Linked DNA regions of Homo sapiens: region 2 is linked to region 1. The links come from fine-mapping of genetic effects on gene expression. A gene starts in region 1. The other region holds a variant in brackets. All regions are shown on one strand. Distances are between the middles of the regions.

Evidence for each region. PIP is the estimated chance that this variant, and not a neighbour inherited with it, causes the effect.
Region 2: its variant is fine-mapped to the expression of TRAK1 in monocytes after R848 (Quach 2016, PIP 0.95).

Annotation. Positions count from the first base shown.
Region 1 is chr3:42,086,767-42,095,093 of GRCh38, forward strand. It overlaps TRAK1 (trafficking kinesin protein 1), which reads left to right and starts at 4,591. Exons shown (of 16, transcript NM_001042646.3): 1 at 4,591-4,794. The coding sequence starts at 4,704. RefSeq lists an enhancer at 8,220-8,327.
Region 2 is chr3:42,009,243-42,017,569 of GRCh38, forward strand. It overlaps LOC107986077 (a long non-coding RNA gene), which reads right to left and starts at 4,327. Exons shown (of 2, transcript XR_001740668.2): 1 at 4,182-4,327; 2 at 2,776-3,720. It also overlaps a transcript of TRAK1 not described here. RefSeq lists enhancers at 4,010-4,079, 5,060-5,199, 5,593-6,094 and silencers at 4,260-4,379, 4,470-4,539, 4,580-4,739, 4,800-4,869. The variant C/A (reference allele first, on the strand shown) is at 4,176.

The DNA of each region.
Region 1 (8,327 bases):
ATGTTACCTCTCTTTGTGTGTATAAATCCTGTAGGAATACAGGTTTTAGCTGTGCTCCAGTGTGTTTCTTTGCTTAGAGCTGCTTCAAGGCAGGTTTCAGTAAGCAAATGAAGCCATGTGCTCCACATTTTGGTCAATATTGATTAGTTGAATGGAACTTTGCTGCAGTTATTTTATTGAAACTAAGCAATGTGATTGGAGATGCCTTGACTTGAGAGAAACGCGTTTCAGAATTCGCAGTCTGAACGCACGTCATCCCGGGGCCCTCATTTTCTAAAGATTGTCCAGGTTTATCGATAGACTCTAACTGTGCCCCTCTCTTTCAATTGTCCCATAGATTCCCTATAAGGAGCCCCTGCTGGTGCACCAGAACTACCGGGGGCCATCTGCCCAACTGCCCCAGACTCTGGCAGTGGGGCCCCCGATGGCAGTGGGCACCTCCCCGTGAAACCTGCCAAGCTGGACGCCACAGCTCTGCACGACGACACTTTGGCCAACTCCGTGCCCCCTTCGGAGGCATGCAACCATGCAGTCCTAGCCTGCAGCCTGGGCATCCCTGAGGAACACTACATAAGCGAGGCTGTGGAAGATGCTCCCAGCTACAGAGGGTACCGGGATGCCTGCACCATTACTGGTATGGGGGCCCTTTCCCTGCCAGGGAGGAAGGGAGGGAGGTTTCAGTCACTGAGGACTAGGGAAGGAATGCAGCCACATGGGAGGGTCTTGGGGAGGTATGTGGAGAGGAACCACCAAAGTGCAAAAGACTCTGAGCTTTCGGATTGTGAGACCTCCAATCCAGAACCTGTTCTGCCAGTGAACCATTTTGTAACTTGTGTCAGTTGTTGACCTACTATCCTGACTGAGAGGTAGACAGCATTTCACTAAATTGTCATGAAGGTTAAAGATGGTAACATCCAAACCTGAGCAGCAAGCATGGCCCATCACAGGCACTCAGTGTATTGAACCCTTCCTTCTCTCTTTGCACTCAGCTTCTTCAGATATAAGACAGGTGTAGTGGGAATAACATGCACTGTCATTGTGGGATGCAAAAACAGAAAACTACATGGAGTGCCCTTTGTACACCATCAGGATTTGCACAGACATGGATTTTTACAGATACCTGTGTCAGTCATAACTCTCAGTGTCCCAGGTGGTAATCACCTAACATCTGTGCGGGCACTTAGTAGTAGAGCTATTGCTTTTTTATTTTCCCCAAGGAAGCATTGAGACAAGTGCTTGAAGCTAGCACAAGAGAGGGCTCTCAATGGAAATGGTGTAGGATGGTGTGCATAACAGCAGCAAGTGGCAAAATTATAGCTCAATCCAGTTGCATTCATATAGAAGTTTGCTTAATTTCTCATTTTTGTCTGCAGTGTTTGCTTTTGTTTGTCTGTTTGAAGTAATGCCTGATGACAGCTTAATATATGCAAGTTGGCTTCCAGTAGCTTCTCTTGGTTCTGTGTTACCAGTTAAGCCTTGAGGACCTCCTGTGTGTCAGGGGTTTCCTGGATACAGAAAGGCACAGAGAAAGCCGGGGGTCCCAGCCTGGTGCCTAGCTGCTGTGCTAGGCCCCCACACACCTCCTCTCCCTTTTTGTTAAGTGGCCCACATGTGTTGTCCTCCGCTTGTGACTGAGTCCCTCTCCCACTTGCCTGCCCCCTGAAGGACACAGTTCCAACATCTCCCTTTTCTCTACTGCATCATTCTTTTCCCCTTGCACTTGGGTCTTTCTTATTAGTGCAGAAACATGCTATGATCTCCCTCTTCGGAAATAGAATCCTTCTCAGTCCCGTGTTTCCCGCAGGCCAGTGTCTCTGCTCTTCTGTTTGCTTACTCTAGTTTTTCTTTTGTTCTCTCTGGAGTCCACTGCAGGCAGGCTCATGCCCCACCACACTGACAGCCTGGTTCAGTCCAGGGGTCTGTCCTCTGCCTTCACCTTACTTCACTTTTCAGTGGTAGTTCACACTGTTGCCAAGTCCTGTGTCCTGGAAGTACAGTCTTTACTTGGCTTCTGGGTCCCCACACTCTCCCTGTTCTTCTGCCTCAGTGGCTGCGTTTCTTCTTCTCCCAAGCCTGGGAACGTTGAAGGGCCCGGGGCCCAGCCTTTCCGCCTCTTTGCTCTTATGTGTGCACCTGTGCAGCACTTGATCTCACCCAGCACACAGGTTTTAAAATCGCCTTCTGTACTGGCCACTCGGTGGTTTCTGTACTCAGCCTGGCCCTTCCTCCTTAAGGCCAGATGTCTCAGACTGACTCCACATGAGTTTCCACTTAGATGTCTAACAGGCATGTCAAACTCAAATGACCAAAAATGAGCTCCTGGTTTCCACCTGCACCTGCTTTTCTTAGGGTTTTCCCCATCCTTGTAAATGGTGCTTTCATTATTCTAGTTGCTCAGGCCAAGAACCTTGGAGGCATTTGTGATTCTGCCTTTCTGCGATTCATACCCCAGTTTGTCAAGAATTCTGTTGGCTGTATCTTCAGAGTATGTTCAGAATCTACCCAGCATTTACTGTGTCCCAGCCACCCCCATCTCACACCTGGATGACCGCACTGGCCTTCCAGTGGGGCCTCTTACTGCTACCCTTGCCTCCCTAAAATTCTTTCTCCGCTCAACCATGAGAGTTGGCTTTTAATACAATCAGATGGTTTAACTCTCCTCCAAACTTCCAGTGAGCTCCCCTTCTATAGAGACCTGTAAGGAAGGGGCTGAATGACAGGAATCCCTCTTTGCCCCGCTGACCTGCCTCCTCTGTGCCCTCCGTGCTCCAGGTACACTGGCCGCCTCACTTAACCTTGAACTCACCAGGCACATCCAGCCTCAGGGTCTTTGGATTGCCTTAACTCCAGATATCCTTATGACCCCCTCTTCCTTCTCCAAGTGACATTTTATTTGATGCTTTTTGTGACCCCCCCCCAATACAGAGTGATCTGCCTCACCTTTCCCCATCTCCCTTTCCTGTTTAATTTTTTCCCCCAAACTTAACCATCTGCTGAACTACTGTATTTGTGTTTTGTCTCCCAAACTTGCAGTAGACTAAAGTCGCGGAGGGCAAACTCTGTGTCTACTTTGCACACTCCTGAATCCAGTGACTAACGTAGTGCCTGCCTGTGGCCAGCGCTCAGTGAACATTTGTTGGGTGTATCAATTGTGTCAATTTGTGCAGTGAGTACTATTATCCTCTTTGTGTAAGTGAAGAGTCTAAATCTCGAAAGGTTCAGCACCTTGGTGAAACTCCTGAGTGGCAGGAGTTGCATCCAGGTCTGTAGGACCCCAGGGCAAGGGTTCTTTGCTGCCTAAGAATTTAGTCTAGTTGGGGAGACAGATGAGTGAGTAGAAATTGGCTGTACACCGAGGTTAGCACAATGATAAGCACAGCACAGTAGGGCACCAAGGAGGGTGCCAGGCTGAACCTTGGAGGGGAAAGGACAGGAGAAGACCACGAGGGCTTTGTGGAGGAGGCGATGACCCAACCGCATCTACATTTGTCCAAACACATGAATTGATCCTTGGGATTCTAGTGGCATCTGTACCAGTGAAATCCAGGAAGCATCCAGCCTGTTAAAGTGCTTTCACTTTCTTTGAATGTGACAGTGGAGGGTAAAGAAATGGCAGAATGTACCGCTGAAACTTCACAGCTGGGCGTGGTGGCTCACGCCTATGATCCCAGCACTTTGGGAGGCCGAGGCGGGCAGATCACCTGAGGTCAGGAGTTCAAGACCAGCCTGGCCAACATGGTGAAACCCCGTCTCTACTAAAAATATAAAAACTAGCCAGGCATGGTGACGGACGCCTGTAATCTCAGCTACTTGGGAGGCTGAGGCAGAATTGCTTGAACCTAGGAGATGGAGGTTGCAGTGAGCTGACACAGTGCTACTGTACTCTAGCCTTGGCGACAGAGTGAGACTCTCTCAAAAAAACAAAACGAAACAGCAACAACAAAAAACACAACAAAGAAGTGGCAGAATGTAGTGCTGAAACTTCAAACCCTATAGGATGTGGTGACTTGGGGGTTCTTTGTTGGGACCAGAGGAAAGCTGAGAAACAGCTCGGTGCTGTTGTGTTTAGCACTGGCTTGGTAAACAGGAGAGTAAACACAGACACTCTTATGCGTTTAAGGGATGGGCTGTCAGGTGATGGAGAACATGCTCGGATTAAAGTTTTATTAGGCAGTCATTGAAAGGAAGACATTAAATGGAAAAAAGTTCTCCGAGAGACCTAGACTATCCCCAAGAATGCATCTGTGGCCTCCCAGGGCTTTGCCAAGTGCAGTCTCAGGACACTGCTTGGCATTCAGCCCTTGATAAATTCACTCCTCCCCCAGTTCCCAGCAAGCCCTGAGATGAACAGCAGACTTTTTGTTCCACTTTAATTTTTAGGCAAAACCGAATGCCCATCACAAAGCCCCGTTCTCCTTGCTACTCCCCTTCCCCCAACCTAGAGGTATCACATTTTTGGGTGCGTCATTTTCTGTTTGGGGTGGCTTAACAAGATGAGCTGATAGGGTTCCCAGGCTGCCTGGAGTTACATAACCCATTGTGCTTCCAGGACAGCTCACAATCTTAGGATTTGCCCTAACAAGCAAACTCAGAAAACTGCTGAGGAAGGCACGGGAGGGTGGCTGTGCGAGGTACTGCCGGGGCTGAGCTCTCATGGAGGCTCTCTCTGTTCTCTGAAGTGCCTTTGGAGTTTATGTCTGCACATGGCATTGGTTTTTCAATTCGGGCAGCCCGTCAGGGCTCAGCCTCTGCCAGGACTCTGCCACGGCAAGCTCATTCGGACAAACGCCTGTGGTAAGTTTGTTTGCCAGGTCTGTCTGCTGTCTGTTTTCTTTGTGGTGTGGTCGGAAAGGAGAAAAGACCACAGGAGAAGCTGTCTCTCTCTTGCTCCGTGCTGCTTGGGAGGTTGTTCATGGTCATGTGGTAGAGAAATTGCCATGTTGAATGATAGGCAGAGCAAAGGGACTTCAGAGACACAACTACTGCCCTCACCACCCCCCCATCTCCCGTTCCCAGGTCCCCTTGTCCCCTTGCCCAGGCTCAGTAGGTGCAAGTGACACTTGCAGGGCATGAGCACAGGGCTGAGTTGAGCCCAGACCCCCTGCACTGCCACTCCCTTTCCCTTCACAGTTCTCTGCAGTGGGTGGACAGGGTTTCTAAGGCCTCCTCCGCCTCTCCAGCTCTGATTTCTCTAATCCTATGTCTTGTCTTTATCCTGATTTCTTAGATGCTAACCTGGTATCTTGGGTCAGCAAGGAGTTTTTCAGAAGGTGAAGGACAGAGTTAGACTGTCTCCCTCCCTCTCTCCCGTTTCCCTCTCTTCCACCCTCCCTTTCTTTTTTGTCCTTTACTAAATGCTTGGGCCTGGGACTCGGATCCACACCCCAGTGATGGAGGGCTTGCTAATCAGATCTGCTGTGGCTTGTGTCTCTTGCTGTGGGGCTGACACCTCTCACTTCCTCTAAGCTGGTCAGAGTCCAGTGGTTGATGACCCATCTGGTTTCTGTCCTGTCTACACGCTGCTTCCTGAGAGCTGTCTGGGCCAGAAAACAGTTAATTCCTGAGAGAAGTGAGCTCCTGTTCCATTCCAGTCAGTTTTAGGCTTTAAAACATGTAAATCTTATTGAATAAGCCTAAAGACACTTCAAACATGCATCTTACTGAGGCAATCGTACTTATTTTTGTGTGTTGAAGCAGCGTGCACCCAGGGCCAGGTTTTTACTGGGGTTTATGTTAATTCCTGGGGTCAGAGAGAGGACTGGTCCTGCCCTCAGAGCACAGAGGTGGGCCAGGGTGTAAAGGAGAAGCTGTAAACCGAGTGAGAATTGCCTAGGAAAAATCTGCTAACAGGAGTAGCCCTGCCTGGGAGGACTCTTCATCAAAGGGCCATGGCTTAGAATTTGTTCCTTTTATTTTGTTGTGTTGTGTTGTGTTGTGTTGTGTTGTGTTATGTTATGTTATGTTATGTTATGTTATGTTATGTTATGTTATGTTATGTTATGTTATTTCGTGACTCACTGTATTGCCCAGGCTGGTTTTGAATTCCTGGGCTCAAGTGATCCCCCTGCCTCGGCCTCCCAAAGTGCTGGGATTACAGGCGTGAGCCACCATGCCTGACCCAGGATCTTTTCCTTTTCTATCACTGATTTAAGCCATAAAACTTGATGTCTTATCCTCTGAAAACATGCTCAAATAAAACATTATGGAATTCTTACACATCTTATTAATTAAATTTAAGGCCTTGTCAATTTCTCTCTAGTATAATTTTTATTTGTGTTTTCTATTGAAAATTTATAATCTAAATGGGTCTTTTATTTGGCTATATTAATGAAACAGAAAAGAATGGACAGTGAAATATATATCCCTTTTACAACAGAGTGAGAAAATGTAAATTACAATGTAGGGAATAACACATATTTTCTAAATGTGTAATTTAGAAGTTTTTTTTTTTCTCCTTCTCTTAGTGGAATCTCCTTTATTTCACAGTTGATTTGTTTTTGCAGATGGAATGCAGAAAGGGGCCCTGTTATGCTAATTTCTAGAGAGAGCATTTGATCTTTGCAAAACCACAGAAACATTCACCTCTGCCTTTTAAATATGCTATAAATGATTTGGGGGCCACCAGCTAATCTTCCTACCCTTCAGTTCCCTTATGACTAGGTGAGTAGGTAGAATATTTATCACAAGGTTTTTGACATAAATTGTGAAATTTATTTAAAATGTCATTTGTAAGTTTTTTTCCATGTGATTTTGGGGCCATAGTTCTCAAGTATTTGATATATTTTTATCTTCTCCTAACTGGTTTTAGTTCTGCACTTGAAACAAATTTTTTTCTCTCCTGTCCTCTTTTCTCTCCCCTCTCTTCTCTCTTCTCTTTTTTCTCCCCTTCCCTTCCCTTCCCTCCCCTCCCCTCCCCTCCCCTCCCCTCCCCTCCCCTCCCCTTCCTTTTTTTTTTTACAGAGTCTCACTTCTATCACCCAGGCTGGAGTGCAGTGGCATGATCTTGGCTCACTACAACCTCCACCTCCCAGGTTCAAGCAGTTCTCATCCCTCAACCTCCTGAATAGCTGGGATTACAGGCATGCGCCACCACGCCCAGCTATTTTTTTGTATTTTTAGTAGAGACAGGGTTTTGCCATGTTGCCCAGGCTGATCCCAAACTCCTGAGCTCAGGCAGTCCGCCTGCCTAGGCCTCCCAGAGTACTAGGATTACAGGCGTGAGCCGCCGTGCCTGGCCGAAACAAGCTTTTCATGTATATAATGTATCAATCTTTGTTCACCCCAAACTATTTTTGGAAGCTGGCAAATAATAAATTATAATAGGAAAAAAAAATGGCAGTTTTTGGCAGAGTGGCCAGGTATGGGCCTCGGCACCTTCCTGCTCAGCCAAGGTCTGTTGTAGGAACGTTGACTGGGAGTGACTGAGAGGATTCAGGGTGCACCAATGCCAGGCTCAGGCTGAGCAGCTGGGTTGGTGTGTGAGTCTGGGACTCATGGCCCCAGGGGGAACTTTGGAGTCAGAAACTTCTCTGTTTTCACTGAGCCCTGATCTCTCATAAACACTGAAAAACTTGAGCAAGTCAGGCTGAAACTATCAGGAGCTGAAACTTTATTTTACTTTTAGAGTCAGAGTCTCACTCTGTCACATAGGCTGGAGTGCAGTGGTGCAGTGCAGTCATGGTGTATTGCAATCTTGAACTCCTGGGCTCAAGTGACTCTCCCACGTCCACCTCCCAAGTAGCTGCGACTATGGGCTGGAGCCACCGTGCCTGGCTATTTTTTTTTGGTAGCAGTGGGATCTTGCTGTGTTGACCAGGCTGGTCTTGAACTTCTGGCCTCAAGTGATCCTACCACCTTAGCTTTCCAAAGTGTTGGAATTATAGGTATGAGCCCCAGTGCCCGGCAAAGGTGTAACTTTATAACTAGATCTGGAAGAAATATAATGTTATAAATCCTGTTCTAGGTTTCTCTAGAGAAACAGAGCCAATAGGAGAAACATATATCGAAATGTATTACAAGGAATTGTGTTACTTGATGGTGGAGGCTGACAAGTCCAAGATGTGCAGTTGGCAAGCTGGAGGCCTGGGAGACCCAATGGTATAGTTGCAGTCCAAAGGCTTGACAGGATTGAGGCCCGGGAACTGGTGTTCCAGTCCTGAAGACCCTGGGGGTGGGTCAGCCTGTTTGCTCTATTCAGACCCCAGCTGACTGGATGAGGTCCACTTCACTCACAGTAAGGAGGCATCTGTTTTACTCAGCCTGCTTATTCATGTTCATCTCACCCAGAAACACTACCACAGACACATTCAGAATCATTCTTGACCAAA
Region 2 (8,327 bases), 78 kb before region 1:
TTAGGTGATCTGCCCGACTCGGACTCCCACAGTGCTAGGATTACAGGTGTGAGCCACCTCGTCCCGCCCTTTTTTTTTTTTCTTTTTGTTTTTCTTTTTTTTCTGAGACAGAGTCTCGTTCTGTCGCCCAGGCTGGAGTGCAACTGCATGATCTCTGCTCACTGCAACCTCTGCCTCCTGGGTTCAAATGATTCTCCTGCCTCAGCCTCCCAAGTAGCTGGGATTACAGACATGCACCACCATGCCAGCTAATTTTGTATTTTTAGTAGAAACGGGGTTTCACCCTGTTGGCCAGGCTGGTCTTCAACAGAAGTTGAAGTGATCCTCCTCAAGTGATCTGCCTGCCTTGGCCTCCCAAAATGCTGGGATTACAGGCATGAGCCACCGCACCCAGACATTCTTTCTGTATCTATTGACGGGGCATCTATGAGTCAGGCACTGTTGTTGGTGCTGGGACTGCAGCAATGAATAAAGCTGGTGTCAGGCATCTTTTATATATGTCCCATGTTGTATCTTAGTTAGCTTTTTTTGCTCAGCATCTACTTTTTTTTTTTTTTTTGAGACAAGAGTTTTGCTCTGTTGCTCAGGCTGCAGTGCCATCGTTCAGTTATAGTTCACTGCAGTCTTGAGTTCAGGGGTTCATGCAATCCTCCTGCTTCAGCCTCTTGAGTAACTGGAACTACAGGCATATACCTTCATACTTCCATAGCCAATTTTTAAATTTTTCTTTTGTAGAGATGGGGTCTTGCTATGTTGCTTAGGCTGGCCTTGAACTCTGAGGCTCAAGTGATCCACCCACCTTGGCCTCCCAAAATGCTGAGATTACAGGTGTGAGCCACCACTCCTGAACTCAGCATCAAGTTGGCCAATGGGAGATAGGAACTGGTGGCTAAATATTTCCTCCTCTGTCTTACATTCTGCGCAGTTCCTCAGGGGGCCTCAGTGGGACTAAGCTCCAGTTGTTTACAGAAATTTTATATCCTTCAATAGGCTTTCTTTCTTTCCTGTTTCATTCTTTCTGGTCCCAATTTCTTTTTCTACCCATATCCTACGGGATCATTTTCCAGAAGAAAGTATCTGCCCATGAGTCCTTCTCCAATGTTGCTTTTGGGGGGAACCCCAGCTAATATAGCTAGCCTTTTAATTGCTTTTGTTGGGTCACTTTCAACATTTCCACCTTGGGTCCCTGGATGCATTCTGGGTTCCTAATGGGTAGGGATCAGATATTCTATTTTGTATTTTCCCACAGTTACTAACGAGGGCCTGGCAAATGCAAGTAAACATAGATTAATTTCGATTTGATTCAACAAAAGGAAAGAATACAGTGGCTATCTGTGGCTCAAGGGAAGCCAGTTGCCTCTGTTGCAGCTACTTCTGCCTCATGCTGGATGAAGGGAGGACTTACCAGGGCAATTACTGTTTTCCTTTCTTGTATCCATTCTGCTTCCCTCCCAGGTTCCTGTTCCACTGGCTTCCAGCAGCAGCAGGTCAGCAGCTGCTCCAAGTAGTTCATCAGCTCAGTCAGGCCCAGAACTGGGGCTGTCACTGGGGCCCCGCCTGCCATCTGCTTCCTCCAAGCTGAGAGTAGGAGAGGAAAACTGGTCCCTACTCCTCAGGGGCAGAATCCACATGCCTGTCATCTGGCACTACAGAACAAATCAGGGACTCCAAAGAATGAATGACTTCAAAATTTTCTACCAGCCTTAACTGAATCTCATAGATATAGGGAGTGACAGACAGCTGGTAAAGGTGTAAAGAAAGTAGAACATATTTGGCAGACAAGCAGTAGTTAACGGGTCTACCGCTAATTTGATGCTCCTGTGGACACACACTACTTTTCTGCCCACAGTTTCCAGAAAATGAGTAGGTTGGACTAGATGATCTCAAAGAACCCCCAGCTCTAGGATTGTTAAATTACAGAACTGGAAGGAATCTGATCGGTCAGTTATACTTCAAATAGTCTAATTTTTTTTTTTTCTTGAAAGCCTTCACTGTTGGTAACAGCACCATGTCTATTCTAGATCCACTATGAGAGCTCCAGCATATCTGCTCTGGCATGCTCCCTGATGGGCATGCCCATTTACATACAGTTTTTTTGTAATTAAAAATGATTTTTTTTGTAATTAAAAATTGCATTGAGATAATGGTAGATTCACATTCATTTCTAAGAAATAATATATTTGGGCCAGGTGCGGTGGCTCATGCCTGTAATCCCAGCACTTTGGGAGGCTGGGGCAGGTGGATCACCTGAGGTCAGGAGCTCGAGACCAGCCTGACCAACATGGTGAAACCCCATCCCTACTAAAAATGCAAAAATTAGCCAGGCATGGTGGTGCACGCCTGTAATCCCAGCTACTCAGGAGGCTGAGGCAGGAGAATTCCCTGAACCTGGGAGGTGGAGGTTGCAGTGAACTGAGATTGTGCCATTGCACTCCAGGCTGGGCAACAAGAGCAAAACTCCGTCTTGGGAAAAAAAAAATACACACACACACACACATATATATATTTGGCCTAGTTTCCCCCAATGACAACATTTGCAAAACCTTAATATGATATCATAACTAGGATATTGACATTGATACAATTTACCTATCTTATTCAGATTTTCCCAGTTTTACTTGTACTCATTTGTGTGTATATTAAGTTCTAGATAATTTTATCACCTGTACTACCATACTCAAGATGTTTAACAGTTCCAAATTCACAAGGATCCCTTGTGTTGCCCTTTTATATCATACCTGCTTTCTTTCCACCTTACTTCATTCCCCAACTTGATGGATTTTTCCAAATCTTTTTATTTGGAAATAAGTTCAAACTTACAGAAATGTTCAAGTACACTCTATATGCTGATTCACTGATAATATGCACCTTACCTTTATTGCCCACTTGGCTTTATCATTTTTTCCTATCAAGATTTTTTTTCCCCTGAATCATTTGAAGGTAAGCTGCATACATTATGACCTTTACCCTTTCAAGATACTTTAGTGTGTATTTCCCAAGAATTAGATATTCTTGTACATAATTACAGTGGAAGTTATCAACATCAGTACATTTAACATTGATCCAATACTTTAATCTCTTACATGGATTCTGATTTTGTCAGCTGGAATGTCCGTGATGTATTTCCCCTCCTCTAGCACAGGATGCAGTCTAGGATCAGGCATGGCATTTAGCTGCCCTGACTCTTTTGCACCCTTTAATCTGGAACATTTCCCAAGCTTTCTTTTGATTTTAATGACCTTGACATTTTTGAATAATACAGACCCTTCCTCTTTTTAATAGATGTTCCTCATTTTGGGTTTGTCCGATGTTTCACTATCATGATTCAGGTTATGCATTGTCCCCAGGAATACTGCATAGCTGATGTGGACATGATATCCATCTGCTCTCATTGGTGATGTAAATTTTGATCACCTGGTTAAGATGCTGTCTGCCTGCCTCTTTGTATAGTTACTATTTCCGCTTTTGCTACTAACAGGTCTAAACCATCTATGGGGAGACACATCAACCCAGACAAATATCTGCCAGCCAGTAACAGCCCCCTAGAGTAAGCATTCATGGATGATTCTTGCCTGAGCCAATCTTCACTATACACTTGATGATCTCTTCAAGTCAAGTCTATGCCAGTATGAGAAATCAGGTTTTGCAGGGTTTAGTTTCCTTACACCTTTGGTTCTGGTCTGAGTCTTCTTCAAGTCCTCCCAATGTCCTCTATGACCCCTGGGTTGAAAAGAAGTAGACTCAGTAGCCTCAACTGGAAATGAGATCATGTGGGTTGTTCCCTGTTAAACCGTCCACAAGTGATTTGCATAATAGAGTGGCCTGTGAGCTCTTACTTCCTGGATCGGTTCCTGATCCCCTCTCTGCTGTCCGCCAGCCCCCTGCCTGTCACCCTTTGGTGGCATCTTAGTCCAACAGCCAGTTCCATCCCCTCCAGCCTTCCCCCCGTCCCCGGCTCCATCCTCCCTCCATTTAAGCCTAAGGGCGGCTTTGCTAGGAGACAGCCCGCCCTGCAGGAACAGAACGCCTGGACTTCCACTGTGTTCACGACAATCAGCGCCCCGGGCCGCGGGGGTCCCATCCTTCTCTTAGACTGACTCTGGAAGGACCCCGAGAAGTGCTAGAAGTAAATAAGCGCTCGGGGAGGGATGTGATCAGCTTTTCCGGATCCAGGT[C/A]TTTACCGGATACTTCTCTGTGCCCCACGGCGTGGGTAAAAGTGCAGGGGCAGCCGCGGGCGAGGAAGGCGGGGCGCGGCTCCAGGCGACTAGGACGTGGCCGGCGGGCATCCTGGAGGGCGGCCCGCAGGTGGCGGCGCGGGGCGGCGGGCGGGGCTGGGAAGGGGGAGGGCTCGGCGCGCGTCGGGCGGTGACGGCAGCGCGGAGGGGAGGTGCAAGCCGCCCGCTCGCGGGGGAGCCATGGCGAGAGGCCGCGCGGCGGCGCCCGCAACAGTGCCCGCGTCCGCAGCAGCGCCCCCGCCCGCCGCCCCGGGGCCCACCCGGCCGCCGCCCCCGCGCGCCCCGAGCCCTTGACGCCCGCGCGCCTCAAGCGAGGCGTCCCCCAGAGTGGGGCCGCGCGCGGGAGAGCCGGAGCGCAGCCTTAGCGTCCCCGAGAGTCTCGAACGCCCCGACGACCCCCGCGTCTCGGAACCCCGGACTCCGAGCCCAGGAGCGCCAGAGCGGCAGGCGGGCAGCAGGAGGCGGCGGCGCCAGAGCGGAGCCCCCGCGAGTGCCCCCGTGCCGCCCGGCCGGCTGCAGCGGAGGGAACCGAAGCCGCCGGGCGGCCGGGGCCGGGCCGAGAACGACGCGGAGGAAGCCCCCACCGAGGCCCCCCGGCACCGCGCCTGCTGCCGGGTTGCGCTCCGTGCACCTCTTGCGGGTAAGCCAGGGGTCCGCTCACCCGCGCCGCCTGCGCCTCGGGCCCAGGGGCTGGGGAAGGACACGGGTGTTCTGGGAGTGTCCGCGTGAGATAGTGGCGGCGTGAGAGGCCGGGCGCCGGGACCCTGCGGGGACAGCCCTCCTAATGCACCGGCCGCACCTGCAGGAGGCCCTCGGAGCCCGGAAAAGTGCCCCTAGGGCATCGTGTCGGCCACGCCGCGTGGCCTGGATTCCGCGCTCCGGCACTCCGAGGTGACAGTGAGGCGACCTTCAAAGAGCCTGGAGCTGAGCGCGGGCAGCACCCCGATTCCCACTCACCCGCAAAACTTGATGAAAATGACATCATCTGAGCGTGTCAGAGAGCAGAGAGCCTTTAGAGCCCTCCTTTGCATCCTTGAGAGTTAACAAGTTTACTTTGTCACTTTCTTGACCTGATTTTTAAAGTTCTTTTCTAGTCTCCAAGGTCAAGCTCTTGCAGGTAAAAACAAATGTAATGAACTGTATCGTTTCTTCTTTTGTAAAGTTGTGTTTCAGGAAAGATGTTAAAAGTCGGCCTGCTCTTGAGGCTGGTGCTGGGTGCCCCTTCCGCTTTAAGCTTGCCTGTTTTAGAACCCGTGGCTGCACTTGTTCAGACACTGAAATTAGCGTCCGCTTTGAGAGCCTTCAGAGTATTCGTCGTTGGACCGCTGATTTTTTTTTTTTTCTGATATGCTTCACTGGAACTTTATTTGCTTCAAAAGTGTAAACGTTGTCAATACTGTCTGTGAGTGTGTATTCGGGACTGGTAACCTTTTCTGGAGGGTCTTTTGTTTATCTGGAAGGAGAGTGGAGGTTACCATAGGGAAACGGTCTAGTTCCAGGGTCCTTTCCAATTTCCAACTACAAGAGCAGCGAAGAGGAAGGTGCTCAGACTAAGCTCTGATTAGCCCTGGAGCCAGTCTGCACTGGGGAGGGTCTCCCCAGATTGAGTGAAGGGACAACAGGCTGGGAGCTTGACTGGTAGGTTTGGAGAGTTGGACCTGGAGTGACAGATGGCGCCTTCCCCTCTGTCTCTCGGTTTGGAATGGTCATACTCGGTTGCTCTTTGATCTTGGACCTCAGCTTTGTCACAGAGGTTCCCAGCCCAGTGTAGCCTAAGCCAGCTGGAAAGCTGAGCCCGGCTCTGGGGGATGCTGAATCGGTTTAAAGCCCTTGTCTCAGGGCTGCGAGTTTGGCAACAGTTGGGTTTCAGCTTGGCCCCAGCACCAGCCGTTTCCTGTTTGATGCCCCAGGGACCAGTTTCCCATCCCCAGCGCTCGCTTGAGGGTGTCTCCACTCTGGCTGTGTTGCTTCTCCTTCTCTGTGGTCTTGGAGTGGGAAACCTGGACTGAAATTCCAACTCCTCTCTATTGGCTGTGTGACCTTACTTAACCTCTCTGTCCTGCTCTCCCCTCTCTGGGAGACAATGTTTTAAATGGAGGTGTCTGTAAAAGTTTGACTGAATGACATGGGAGCGTTTTCAGGTCTCCTTCCAACATGATTGGGTTTGTAATTTGGTAAGCTTTTTGAGCCCCAACAGGGATAATAAAGCATATAATAGTAATTATTGTTTTATAGGTTTATTATGAGGGTCAAATCAGGTAATATAAAAGAGCTTTGGGCCGGGCATGGTGACTTGTGCGTGTATTCCCAGCATTTTGGGAGGCTGAGGCAGGTGGATCACTTAAGGTCAGGAGTTCGAGACCAGCCTGGCCAACATGGTGAAACCCCGTCTCTACTAAAAATACAAAAATTAGCTGGGCATGATGATGGGCACCTGTAATCCCAGCTACTAAGGAGGGTGAGTCAGGAGAATAGCTTGAATCCGGGAGGCAGAGGTTTCATTGAGCCAAGATCCCGCCACTGCACTTCAGCCAGGGCGACAGAGCAAGACCCCATCTCAAAAACAAAAACAAAAACAAAAAACATAAAAATAAAAGGGCTTTCAAAAATAATAGAGCACTATTCACATTGAATGGAGTTCTTAAACTTTCACTTTCCAAACTAACAACACCTTAAGGTTTGCCATCTTAAGTGGACTTTGTTCCTGTCATTGCATTCTGGTTTTTTGTTTTTTTTTTTCTTTTTGAGTCAGAGTGTCGCTCTGTCATCGAGGCTAGAGTGCAGTGGTGCGATCTTGGCTCACTGCGGCCTCCACCTCACAGGTTCAAGTGATTCTTTGGCCTCAGCCTCCCGAGTAGCTGGGATTGCAGGCACCTGCCACCACGCCCAGCTAATTTTTGTATTTTTAGTAGAGACGGGGTTTCACCACTTTGGCCAGGCTGGTCTCAAACTCTTGACCTCGAGTGATCTGCTGGCCATGACCTCCCAAAGTGCTGGGATTATAGGCGCAAGCCACCACTCCCAGTCCCTGTCGTTGCATTCTGAGTCCCTGCCTCTGACCTTGTATATAGTAGGCCTCTGTAATTGTTTGGTGATTCTTGAATTAACCATCTGGGCTCTCCATCTTGACTTCGTGCTCCCAAGGTAGAGAACAGACCTTGGGCATTCTCCTCTCCGTCAGCTGTCGGAGTTTTTATAGATGCGATTGTTCTGTAGCACCATATAGCTCATAAGAGAGCCAAGGAGAGTAAGCAGATAGGTGGCCAGTTTTTCTGCAAGGGACAGTTCTTTTTTTACCCTTTGGGGCTCAAGTAAGAAAGGCATTGGAGGGCGAACAGTCATTTAAACTCACTGAGAGTTGCAGATATTCAGTAAAGCCTTTTGTGCATGCCAGAGCTTAATACTGTATGGTCGGGAAGTTTGATAAACTTTAAAGTACCATGACCAGCCTCTTCACATATATGATTCTGTGACCCTTGGTTTTGAAAATGGACTCTGACCACTGGCTGCGGTGGCTCACACCTGTAATCCTAGCACTTTGGGAGGCCAAGGCAGGTGGATTGCCTGAGCTCAGGAGTTCGAGACCAGCCTGGGCAACATGGTGAAACCCCGTCTCTACTAAAACACAAAAAAAGTAGCCGGGCGTGGCAGCATGCGTGTGTAATCCCAGCGACGTGGGAGGCTGAGGTAGGAGAATTGCTTGAACCCAGGAGGTGGAGGTTGCAGTGAGCCAAGATTGTGCCATTGCACTCCTGCCTGGGCGACAGAGTGAGACTCTGTCTCAAAAACAAAACAAAACAAAAGAAAATGGACTCAGATTTATTTAACTCATCTATATTTGGCATGCACTGTGATTTTTGTAGGGAAAGACAAGAGGATGTTCTTTTTAAAAGATGGAGATAGAACCCAAGGGCTTATGTGGGTTCTTAGGTTTTATTTTATTCTTGGACAGAGATACACTGTTGTTAGACAGAGATACACTGTTGAATGAATGGGTCTTCTGGCTTCTCACCTCCTTTTCCCCCCTTCTTTTCAAACAAATGTTCCCTATTCTGACTTGTCTTCTTAGATGTATCTAAGTGGAGGCCACTT